Linked DNA regions of Homo sapiens. The protein of the gene in region 1 interacts with the protein of each later gene in a pairwise test. Each region holds a gene or a part of one and is shown on either strand. Other genes may lie near its edges. The genes, in order: ABCF2, UPF2 and HADHA.

Evidence for each region.
Region 2: the proteins of ABCF2 (region 1) and UPF2 interact in a two-hybrid assay, tested with the Homo sapiens proteins (one large-scale study listed by BioGRID).
Region 3: the proteins of ABCF2 (region 1) and HADHA interact in a two-hybrid assay, tested with the Homo sapiens proteins (one large-scale study listed by BioGRID).

Annotation. Positions count from the first base shown.
Region 1 is NC_000007.14:151,210,906-151,214,249, forward strand, and holds the end of ABCF2 (ATP-binding cassette sub-family F member 2), read right to left. Parts: intron 3,287-3,344; coding exon 3,149-3,286; 3' UTR 579-3,148; downstream 1-578. Other genes in the region: ABCF2-H2BK1 (ABCF2-H2B protein), read right to left, coding at 3,153-3,286.
Region 2 is NC_000010.11:12,025,810-12,029,309, reverse strand, and holds part of UPF2 (regulator of nonsense transcripts 2), read left to right. Parts: coding exon 1-565; intron 566-3,500. UniProt on the Homo sapiens protein: Involved in nonsense-mediated decay (NMD) of mRNAs containing premature stop codons by associating with the nuclear exon junction complex (EJC).
Region 3 is NC_000002.12:26,234,467-26,238,199, forward strand, and holds part of HADHA (trifunctional enzyme subunit alpha, mitochondrial precursor), read right to left. Parts: intron 2,523-3,733; coding exon 2,389-2,522; intron 1-2,388. UniProt on the Homo sapiens protein: Mitochondrial trifunctional enzyme catalyzes the last three of the four reactions of the mitochondrial beta-oxidation pathway.

The DNA.
Region 1 (3,344 bases):
TAATTGGGAAGAATGAGAGAAAGAAACGGTGTGAAAGGTAGAGTGGAATCAGTGTGAGCGGAGTATAATGAGGCTTGGACTGAAGGCAGATGAGCAAAACGCCTGAGCCTGGACTAGATGCAGATAGCAGAAGCTCCCCAGGTGGTGAAGAGGCTGACAGGGAGGAAGACCACTGGAGGAGGTGAGAAGCAGAAAAGCAATAGGTGCTCACCAGAAAAGCAGACGTGGCGGTCTTGGGAGTTAGCAGTAAAGGGAAGAAAAGCCCATTGCAAAATGGAGAAAGTCAATTGTCTCACTTAGCACCTATGGGGGAACAAATACTTCAGGCCCTTGAATGCTGTGATTAAAGAAACCTGGAGCAATATGAAAGGTATAGGGGCTTGGGGGAAAAGAGGATGTTACAAATTGAGAGGTGGGAGAAGGGTTCCAAAGACCAGCATCACCTGCTGGCTGTGTTAAAGCTAGCAACCCCTCAATCAACTTACCTCTCCACCCAGCTCTGAACGGCTGGCCACATCCTACGGGCTAAGGTTTAAGAGAATTAACAGGCCACTTCTCAATCCAAAACAAGGCACTGCTAATTTTAGAAATATGTATTTTGTGGACTTTTAAAGCATTATTTAAATTACCAAGGTTGACATTTTTCTTGACAAATAAGCTGACTAGACTATTTCCATTCCTCCAGGTTCTGAAGATCTCCTGTCCTAGTATGGAGACTCTGGAGATCCCGAGACTACCTGAATTCTTAGCAATATCCAGCACTTCCTTAAGTATCAAGGGCTCTGTCCCTCACTGTCCCCATTATCCCAGCAGCCCACTCTCCAGATGCCATTCTCCCCTGAACCAAGGCTCTGGACTCTCAGGACAGACTAACCTGGGCCATTTTGCTCCAGGCCCCACTTAAGGCATAAAGCAGTCAAGCCAGTACCCTCTGGGGTCAGAGGACTCCCATCTGTCTCAGCTGCAGTGTCTCACGGGAGGCTCCTGTCCCTGTTGCCCAGGGCAGCTCCTGGACTTTGTGGCCATCTGAGAAGATCCTACTCATTTTTCAAGTGAGAGCACACCAATTCCACCTTTCTGGGCAGCTACTCACAAGAAATTTCCCTCCTTTTTGAATACTTCTGTCTCCTATCTAAATCACAATTTAGCATCTAATTTGTGTCCTGTATGGTTCTGTCTTACTGGCTTTCCAAGAAGATCATGAGCTCCTAAGGGGTTTAAGCACCATCTGGGACAGTTGCTCCCGCCAGTCCTGGCTGTATTATGAGTACTGAAAAATCATGGCTGTGTCTTCCCATAGGGATGGCTGATTTCAGAGGCAGAGTGATGAATCCACACCAGGAAGGATGGCCACTGGTGAAATGCTATTGAAGTTCAAAAGACCCAGATAAGGTATGCAGAGCCCTGGGCTGGAAGTGAATTCAACAGTGATGATAACTATGGCTGTGGACAGGTAAAAATACAAAATTTCCTGTATCCCAATAGGAAGAGAGGTTCACAGACGTTGGTGTGAAAATGCAAACTCCTGGCCATCTCTGCACCTCTCTCATTCTACCAAATGCGATTAATCAATAGGTCTGATGCTCAGCAATCTGAATTTTTTTATTTTTTTGAGACAGTGTCTCGGTCTGTCATCAGGCTGGAGTGTAGCGGCACGCTCTGCTCACTGCAGCCTCAACCTCCTGGGCTCAAGTGAGCCTCCTCTTATCAGAGCAGCTGGGACCGCAGGCACATGCTACTATGCCCGGTTCATTTTATTACTATTTGTAGAGAAGGGGTCTCCCTACTTTGCCCAGGCTGGTCTTGAACTTCTAGGCTCAATTGATCCTCCTACAGTGGCCTCCCAAGGTGATGAGCTTACAGTCGGATTACAGGTGTGAGCCACTGTGCCTGGCCAGTCTGCATTTTTTTGAGACAGGGTTTTGCTCTGTCATCCAGGCTGGAATGCAGTGGTGCAATCTCAGCTCACTGCAACCTCCACCTCCTGGGCTCAAGCGATCCATCCACCCTAGCCACCTGAGCAGGTGGGATTCCAGGCACATAAAGACGGGTTTTGCCATGTTTCCCAAGCTGGTCTTGAACTCCTGAGCTCAAGTGATCCACCTGCCTCAGCCTCCCAAAGCGCTGGGATTACAGGTGTGAGCCACCGCACCTGGCCTGCATTTTTAACAAGCAGCCCAACTGCTGTGCAGTTGGGGCAGAACCTCAGATCACAATCAGAAAACCACGCTCCTGGACAGTGGTTCTCAAAATAGTCTCTAGACCAGCAACAACAGCATCACCTGGAAACTTGCTAGAAATGTTAACGTTCTTGGTCTCCCCCAAAACCTATTGAACCAGAAACGCTGAGGCGAGATCTGGCAATCTGATTGCATGAGCCCTCCAGGTGATTCTGATTCATGTTAAAGTCTGTGAATCACAGGCCTGAGAAAAGGTACAATTTCAAATCAGAAGTAAAGGGACAAAGTTCTTCCAGCTCCTATGGACTAGTCTTCAGTTCCCATCGACACACTGACGCTGGATCCAGCTCCTGCTGTGGGCAGTGCATGTTGGCACTGCAGGGAGGAGAAGGCCCCAGAGACCCGAGAAGGAAGGTAGGGACCGTGGCTTCCTCTTTCTTTATTGGGCGCTTTGTAGATGTCACGCAGGTCTAAAAGTTACACTGCTAAATAATTATTTAAAAACTGACCAGGACGAAGGTCCTGGTCCGGAGCTCCAAACCAGAAGCAAAAAGGAATCGGGGCGGTGGGCTGGGGGGTACTCCTCCAACATCACCAAAACCCAGAAAACGAGGATCCTAAGCTCCTCCGCAGGCCAAATCCAGGGCTTGGGCCCCTGGGCTAACCCGCAGGTGCCTCTGACTGCATCACACTCAGAGTAAGATAACCAGCAAGGGGCTGGAGGGAACGGCCAGCCGAGTCCAGACATGGACAGATGTAACTGGAAGGAGGACAGGAAACAGACAGGTACTGTCCAGCTGTAGGTAAGAGAGTGCAGCTAAGGCAGGTTGAGGGGCAGGGGAGAGGCTGGGGGAGCAGTATTGCAGCAATGCAGGAGTGTAGCCCCAGGGTCCTGTCCTGAGCGGCTGGTCAGGTTAGCAGCTGTTAGTTCCCAGATGGAGCTCCTGACCCGAACCCAGGTAGAGGGCTCACACGTTGTGGGTCCTCTTGGTGAGCTGGGGCTCCTCATCCACCAGCTTGGACTTGAGGTGCTCCTTGTAAGCCAGGATGTCTCCAGGCCACTTGGTGATTGTCTGCTTCTCACAGACCCAAATTTCCTGTGCAACCTAGAAAGCAAAACCTGGACTTAATCCTGGGCTAGTCACTGTCCCTGCCTCTGCCCAG
Region 2 (3,500 bases), on another chromosome or scaffold:
ATGGCCTAAATTTAAGCAAATACATTGCAGAAGCTGTAGCTTCCATCGTGGAAGCAAAACTAAAAATCTCTGATGTGAACTGTGCTGTGCACCTCTGCTCTCTCTTTCACCAGCGTTATGCTGACTTTGCCCCATCACTTCTTCAGGTCTGGAAAAAACATTTTGAAGCAAGGAAAGAGGAGAAAACACCTAACATCACCAAGTTAAGAACTGATTTGCGTTTTATTGCAGAATTGACAATAGTTGGGATTTTCACTGACAAGGAAGGTCTTTCCTTAATCTATGAACAGCTAAAAAATATTATTAATGCTGATCGGGAGTCCCACACTCATGTCTCTGTAGTGATTAGTTTCTGTCGACATTGTGGAGATGATATTGCTGGACTTGTACCAAGGAAAGTAAAGAGTGCTGCAGAGAAGTTTAATTTGAGTTTTCCTCCTAGTGAGATAATTAGTCCAGAGAAACAACAGCCCTTCCAGAATCTTTTAAAAGAGTACTTTACGTCTTTGACCAAACACCTGAAAAGGGACCACAGGGAGCTCCAGAATACTGAGAGACAAAACAGGTGATTTTCAAATGTTTCTCAGAGTTGAGAATTTATTTTGGAGCTCATACTTAAAAATGTTTAAAGTCTTCATGCCACTGAAAGAACTTATGGAAAAGGGCTCCTTACAGGTGATTTCTTAACATTCCAGGAAAATTTCAAAGTAGAACAGTCTGAGTACTCATGTTTTAATGTGAGTCTACGATAGATTTTGTTTCTGATTTTAAAAAAATCTGCCAAGTAGATGGTGATTTTTGCTTTGTGGATGTGTATTCTTCCTGTGATTTTAAATACTCCTTAATAATCAAGGGGTAAAATTTCCTTTTCTGTCACTTAAACTTACCTGCTAATATTTTTCTGTGTGCTTTAACGTTCTCTCTATAACAGGTTTGCTTTCATTGTTTTGTATTTTAAGTTCTTTATGTCACTGTTGCTCTTCTTAAGAAAATGAGTCATTAATTACCAGTGGTATTTCAGATTAGAGTTTTGGGAAATAATGCACAAAATTAGCTGTGAAAAAATTTCTTAAATGCAACTACAAAACTCATTTGTAGGAGTCTTCTTCCTGGGGGCATTCATTTAAAATTCTAAAGGAGGAATGTACTGTGCCTGTGGTAATTGGTGAAAAGACCTGACTTTGGGGCCAATTTTGGTTGTTAAAAGGTATGGTAGACTACTGTGTAGTATTTGTACCTGAGGAGCAACAAGAAGCTAGAAGTTGATGGAGTTGCTAGGCATTAGGTCAATTTCTATGGAGGATGGATTTGGAGGGGGGCTGAGGGAGTGTAGCAAAGAGGTAATAGCCATAGCACGTGGCTGAGTATTAAACTATTTTAATATTTCTACAACTATTTATATTGCATGGTTGAGAATCTGAAATTACTGTTGATCAGAAATTTGTATAGGAGGAGATCCTTTTCTAGTTTCATAAGTCTGTGGTAGGGGAGGAGTGGTTTAAGTAGTTACCACTAGAAGATGATTGACCAGAAGATTGAACAGGAGTAGTGTATGCCAGTAGTACAGTTAGGGCAGGGTCAAGGTAGAGACTGTGGTTAAATCTTTGTGGCTGAAGGTCACTCAGAGGTGAGAATTTAAGACGGCAAAGGTGTTATCAATAGTTCTTTTAGGAAAAAGGAAAAGGCTTATCCTTGTTTTGTGTTTTGATTTGCGAGGACTGGTTTAAACTTTGAAGAGGCAACCTGAGAGTGTACTTGTACCATCAGTAATGGACTAAAAAGGATTATGGTGGTGCTTTATTCATACTTCTCACTTACTTAGGGCTTAATTATGATTTCCATATGCTTTGTCAATTTCATAGTCCTTTGCTCGTACATCCTACCTAATACATCATAACTGATTTGTGAGTATGCTAATAGTATGCTAATGATTGATTAGTTCTTGGCTACTTTGAGGGTGTATGTGTGTGTATTTGCTTTTGATTGGACTCAGAATCTTGGAGAGTGGAGAGATTCTACGATGTTTTAATCCAATCCATTCACCTTTCCAAAGTAGGAATACATTTTTTAGATTATCTAACAGATAAAATTATTTTTCCTCTGAATACTTCCCAAAGGAGCTCAGTTCTCTCGGTGCCATTGCACTGTTGGAAACACTATGGGCTAGGAATTCTTTGTTACATCAGGTGGAAATTTAACTTCCCACAAAATGATTCCCTTTGATTTGGTTCTTTTTTCTGGTATGGATGGAATACAGGTACTTGAAGTAGGAAATCTATGAACTTGTAACCTGTTCACAATTTAATGAAACACAGAAAGTGAGAGTGAGCATTTAGAAATTATTATAGGAATTTTCAGGCTGGAAATGGTGGCTCACACCTGTAATCCCAGCACTTTGGGAGGCCAAGGTGGGTGGATCATCTGAGGTCAGGAGTTTGAGACCAGCCTGGCCAACATGGTGAAACCCCGTCTCTACTAAAAATGCAAAAATTAGCCGGGCATGGTGGCAGGCCCCGGTAATCCCAGCTACTTGTGGGGGACTGAGGCAGGAGAATCACTTGACCCTGGGAGGTGGAGGTTGCAGTGAGCCGAGATTGTGCCATTGCACTCCAGCCTGGAGGACAAGAGCGAGACTTCGTCCTAAAAAAAAAAAAAAAAAAAAAGTTTATAGGAATTTTCAGTGGTCATGGTATTCTTACTATATTTTTACAGAAGTGTCCAGTGGTTGGGGAAGGAAAGGTGGCCCTTTACCACAGATGGTTTGAGGAATACCAGTAGAGGACATATGTGTCCACTTTTATTCCCATGACAGTATCTCAGATATTCAGACTGCCGTGATGTTTCCCTTTTCTCGTCTCCATGTTAAATACCTCCAGTTCTTTCAGTTTGCTCCATGATTTCCAGACACTTCACTACTCTTAGGATACTTGTTTTGGATGCATTCTTTTCTATCTGTGACCTAAAATTGCCTTAGTTTTTATAGCTACCTTGTTGTTCTTTTGGTTTTTGTTAAACTTATTTGCACTGAAGCTTTATTTCTCATATGAACTGCTGACAAGCCACTTCTTCTTCACCTTAAACTAGTGAAATACAATTTTTAAAGCCTAAATGTGTACTTGCATATCTCTGTTAAACTTTATTTAGATGCTTTTTGTATATTATTTTAGCTTTATGAAAGCTTTGGATATTGATTACATGTGTATTATTAATAGTACTGGCAGGGTGCGGTGGCTCACGCCTGTAATGTCAGCACTTTGGGAGGCTGAGGCAGAAGGATCGCTTGAGCCCAGGAGTTTGAGACTAGCCTGGGCAACATGCTGAAACCCCATTGCTACAAAAAATATAAAAATTAGCTGGGTGTGGTGGCATGCGCTTGTAGTCTCAGCTACTTGGGGGCTGAGGTGGGAGGATCAGTTGAGCCTGGAAAGTCGAGACTGCAGTAAGCCATGATCGCACCACTGCACTCTAGCCTGGGCGACAGAGAGAGACCCTGTCTCGAA
Region 3 (3,733 bases), on another chromosome or scaffold:
AATCTTCAAATAGAAGGTTAAGAATGATTTTGCTTCAAATAGCACAATAGCAGCAACATCATTTCTCCATAAAGAGTGTTAAACTTCTGGATCCATGAGACCATCCCGGCTAACACGGTGAAACCCCGTCTCTACTAAAAATACAAAAAATTAGCTGGGCATAGTGGCGGGCGCCTGTAGTCCCAGCTACTTGGGAGGCTGAGGCAGGAGAACAGTGTGAAACCGGGAGGTGGAGCTTGCAGTGAGCCGAGATCGCGCCACTGCACTCCAGCCTGGGCGACAGAGTGAGACTCTGTCTCAAAAAAAAAAAAAAAAATTCTGGATCCAGAAAACATAAATGTGTTGCATAATTTATTTTTACTTCTGTAATAAATCATTAAATTACAAAGCTTGGTACAAGGGAAAATCATCTTTGGTAAATTACTTCACTATCAGATTAAACATTTCACTATCAGGTAGTTAACAGCAATAAAAATGACGCAAAAGAAAAGCTTCCAGGTTGTTTAGAGAAATCTAAAACATTTTAACAGATCCCACTAATGAATAAAAATGACCAGGTAGGCCAGGCATGGTGGCTCATGCCTGTAATCCCAGCACTTTGAGAGGCCAAGGCAGGTGGATCACCTGAGGTCAGGAGTTCGAGACCAGGCTGGTCAACATGGTGAAACCGCGTCTCTACTAAAAATACAAAAATTAGCTGGGCGTGGTGCTGCATTCCTGTAGTCCTGGCTACTCGGGAGGCTGAGGCGAGAGAATCACTGGAACCTGGGAGGTGGAGGTTGCAGTGGGCCGAGATCGCACCACTGTACTCCAGCCTGGACAGCAGAGGGAGACTCCGTCTCAAAAATAAATAAGTAAATAAAAATGATCAGGTGCAATGATGTTCCACTCAATGTCCTTTAATTTCAGTTTGTTTCATTTGCTATTTTGTGAACACACTTAGGATATGGATTTTGTACTTTTGACCAAGGATAACTAGTATATTCTGTAATTTTATACACTGAGAGTTGCTCAGCTGGCCTCATAGAAGCTACATGTATTTTCCTCTGGATATAGGTAGCTACTGCCAGGTACATCAGTGTCTTGTTAGACTTTATAAATGTTCTGTTTAATGTTAATTTTTTAGAAGACCCAAAATTATCTTATCAAGTGGTTTTTCTTCTAGCTGAATTATTTGTGCCTAACAAGAGACTGATTACTACACATAAATAATTACACTTTCAGTACAAATTACTAAACCTACAATGCTGGCTATCATTGTCTAAAATACAAAGAACATAACAAATACCCATATTTTAATGGAATTGACAACTTAACATTTTAACCTATTAAACTGACACTAAAATATCATTTCCCCTCCTTATGTATGTGTAAACAATTGTAAATAAGTTAATGTAGGCATGCATTCCACCATTTAGCAGAGGAAAAGAAAATACTAGCTGCATCTGTAAAGCTGCCTTTAACAATCAAGTCCTACCACCCACTTCATTTCCCCAAAGCAGCCATCTTCATGTTTGTAGTGTCTCCTTCCAGACCAACTACGATTGTGTCCATAAATAGTATCAAGAATTATTCCATGTTTGGTTTTAAAACATTTATAGAAACTATATACTGTATGAAACATTCTGCAATTTGCTTTTCTTTTAACTTAACCTTATGTTTTTGAGTTCTAACATCATATTGTGGATCTAGTTAATTCCTTTTACCTGTTTTGTAGTATTCTATTGTGTGAATAGTCCACATTTTACTTACCCATTTTCCTACTGACTGACATTTGGTTTTAAATTCTTCATTATTTCACACTACACAGGACCAAACATCCTTGTACACTGGTTCTTATAAACAAGGGGTGAGATTTCTCTAGATCACATGATGTGTGTGTGTGTGTGTGTGTATATATATATATATATACTCTGTGTGTGTGTGTGTGTGTGTGTGTGTGTGTGTGTGTGTGTATATACTTTTTTTTTTTAAGACAGTCTCACTCTGTCACCCAGGCTGGAGTGCAGTGGTGTGATCTCGGCTCACTGCAACCTCTGCCTCCCAGGTTCAAGGGATTTTCGTGCCACAGCCTCCTGAGTAGCTGAGATTACAAGCGTGTGCCACCATGCCTAATTTTTGTATTTTTAGTGGAGACAGGGTTTCACCATGTTGGCCAGGCTGGTCTTGAGCTCTTGGCCTCATGTGATCCACCTGCCTCGGCCTCCCAAAGTGCTGGGATTACAGGCAAGAACCACCACACCCAGCCTGATACGTACATTTTCAATTTTACAGGCCTGTGTCACTGTGCCCAGCACTTCTACTTTCTTTTAAAAGGAGAAATTATTAGGCCTAAGAAACACACTATTAACCAAGATAAAAGGTGACTTCAAGTTTCCTAAAACTTACTTGATATCAGCACCTGCAATAAAGCAGCCTGGCTTTGATGAGATAAGGACGGCACTTCTGATTTGATCACTAGCCCAGATTTCATTCATAACTTCTGAGAACTCTGAATGTAGCTCTTTACTCAGTGTATTTACCTGCCAAAGGGAAATATATACAGGTAAGGGTTTAAATTTGAAGCACTGGATGTACGTACCACCATCAAATGCTATTTTGATTATAAGAAATATACTTATCCGGCAGAAATATACTGTTAGAAGAGAGTAAGAAATATCATTCTCCCAGCAAGTCAGTAGCTTTCTATTCAGGCAGCTTTGGCCCACTACAAGCACCCCTTCCTTTAAAAATAGGTCTTCTCAAAGGAGAAACTCAGGGTCATCCTCAGAGTTTGAATCATATGTAGGCTATAAACAAATAGGTCTACAAACATTTATTGGCATGGAAAAAATCTGCATAATGTTAAGAAAAAAATGAAATACAAATAAGACATATAGGCCAGGCATGGTGGCTCATCCCTGTAATCCCTGCACTTTGGGAGGCCAAGGTGGGCGGATCACTTGAGTTCAGGAGTTCGAGACCAGCCTGGGCAACATAATGGAACCTTGCCTCTACAGAAAATACAAAAATTAGCCGGGCCTGACAGCACACGCCTATAGTCCCAGCTACTCAGGAGGCTTAGGTGGGAGGATCACCTGAGCCTGGGGAGGCTGAAGCTGCACTAACCTGTGACTGTGCCACTGCACTCCAGCCTAGGCAACAGAATGAGACCCTATCTTCAAAAAAAACCATATAGTATGATCTTAGTTTTGTAAATATTATTCATTGAAACTGAATTAAATGTGATTATCCCATGGAAGATACCAAGAAAAAGATGTGGTTATCTTTAGGTTTGAATTATGAATGTTTATTATTTTCTTCTTTATAATTTTTTATAGTTGAAAAATTTTCTACCATTGACATATATTACTTTTGTGTTCAGGAAAAATGTCCAACCTAAGAAAATTCTGAAAAAATATCTTAAGCTTGAATCATTGGTTAGTGAGTGCTAAAATTTACTCTAGTAAAGGGGAATGGCTCTTATTTACCTTAATTTGTGATAGTTGTCAACTGCTTCCATCTAGGTCTTATTACATCTAAGCCTCTGGCTATAAGTTTGTTGTTGTTGTTTTTTAGAGAGACAAGGTCTTGCTCTGTGGCCCAGGCTGGAGTGCAGTGGTGCAATCATAGCTCACTGTAACCTTGAATTCCTAGGCTTAAGTGATCTTTCCACCTCAGCCTTCAGAGTAGCTAGCACTACAGGTGAACATCACCATACCCAACTATTTTTTATTTTTTATAGAGACAAGGT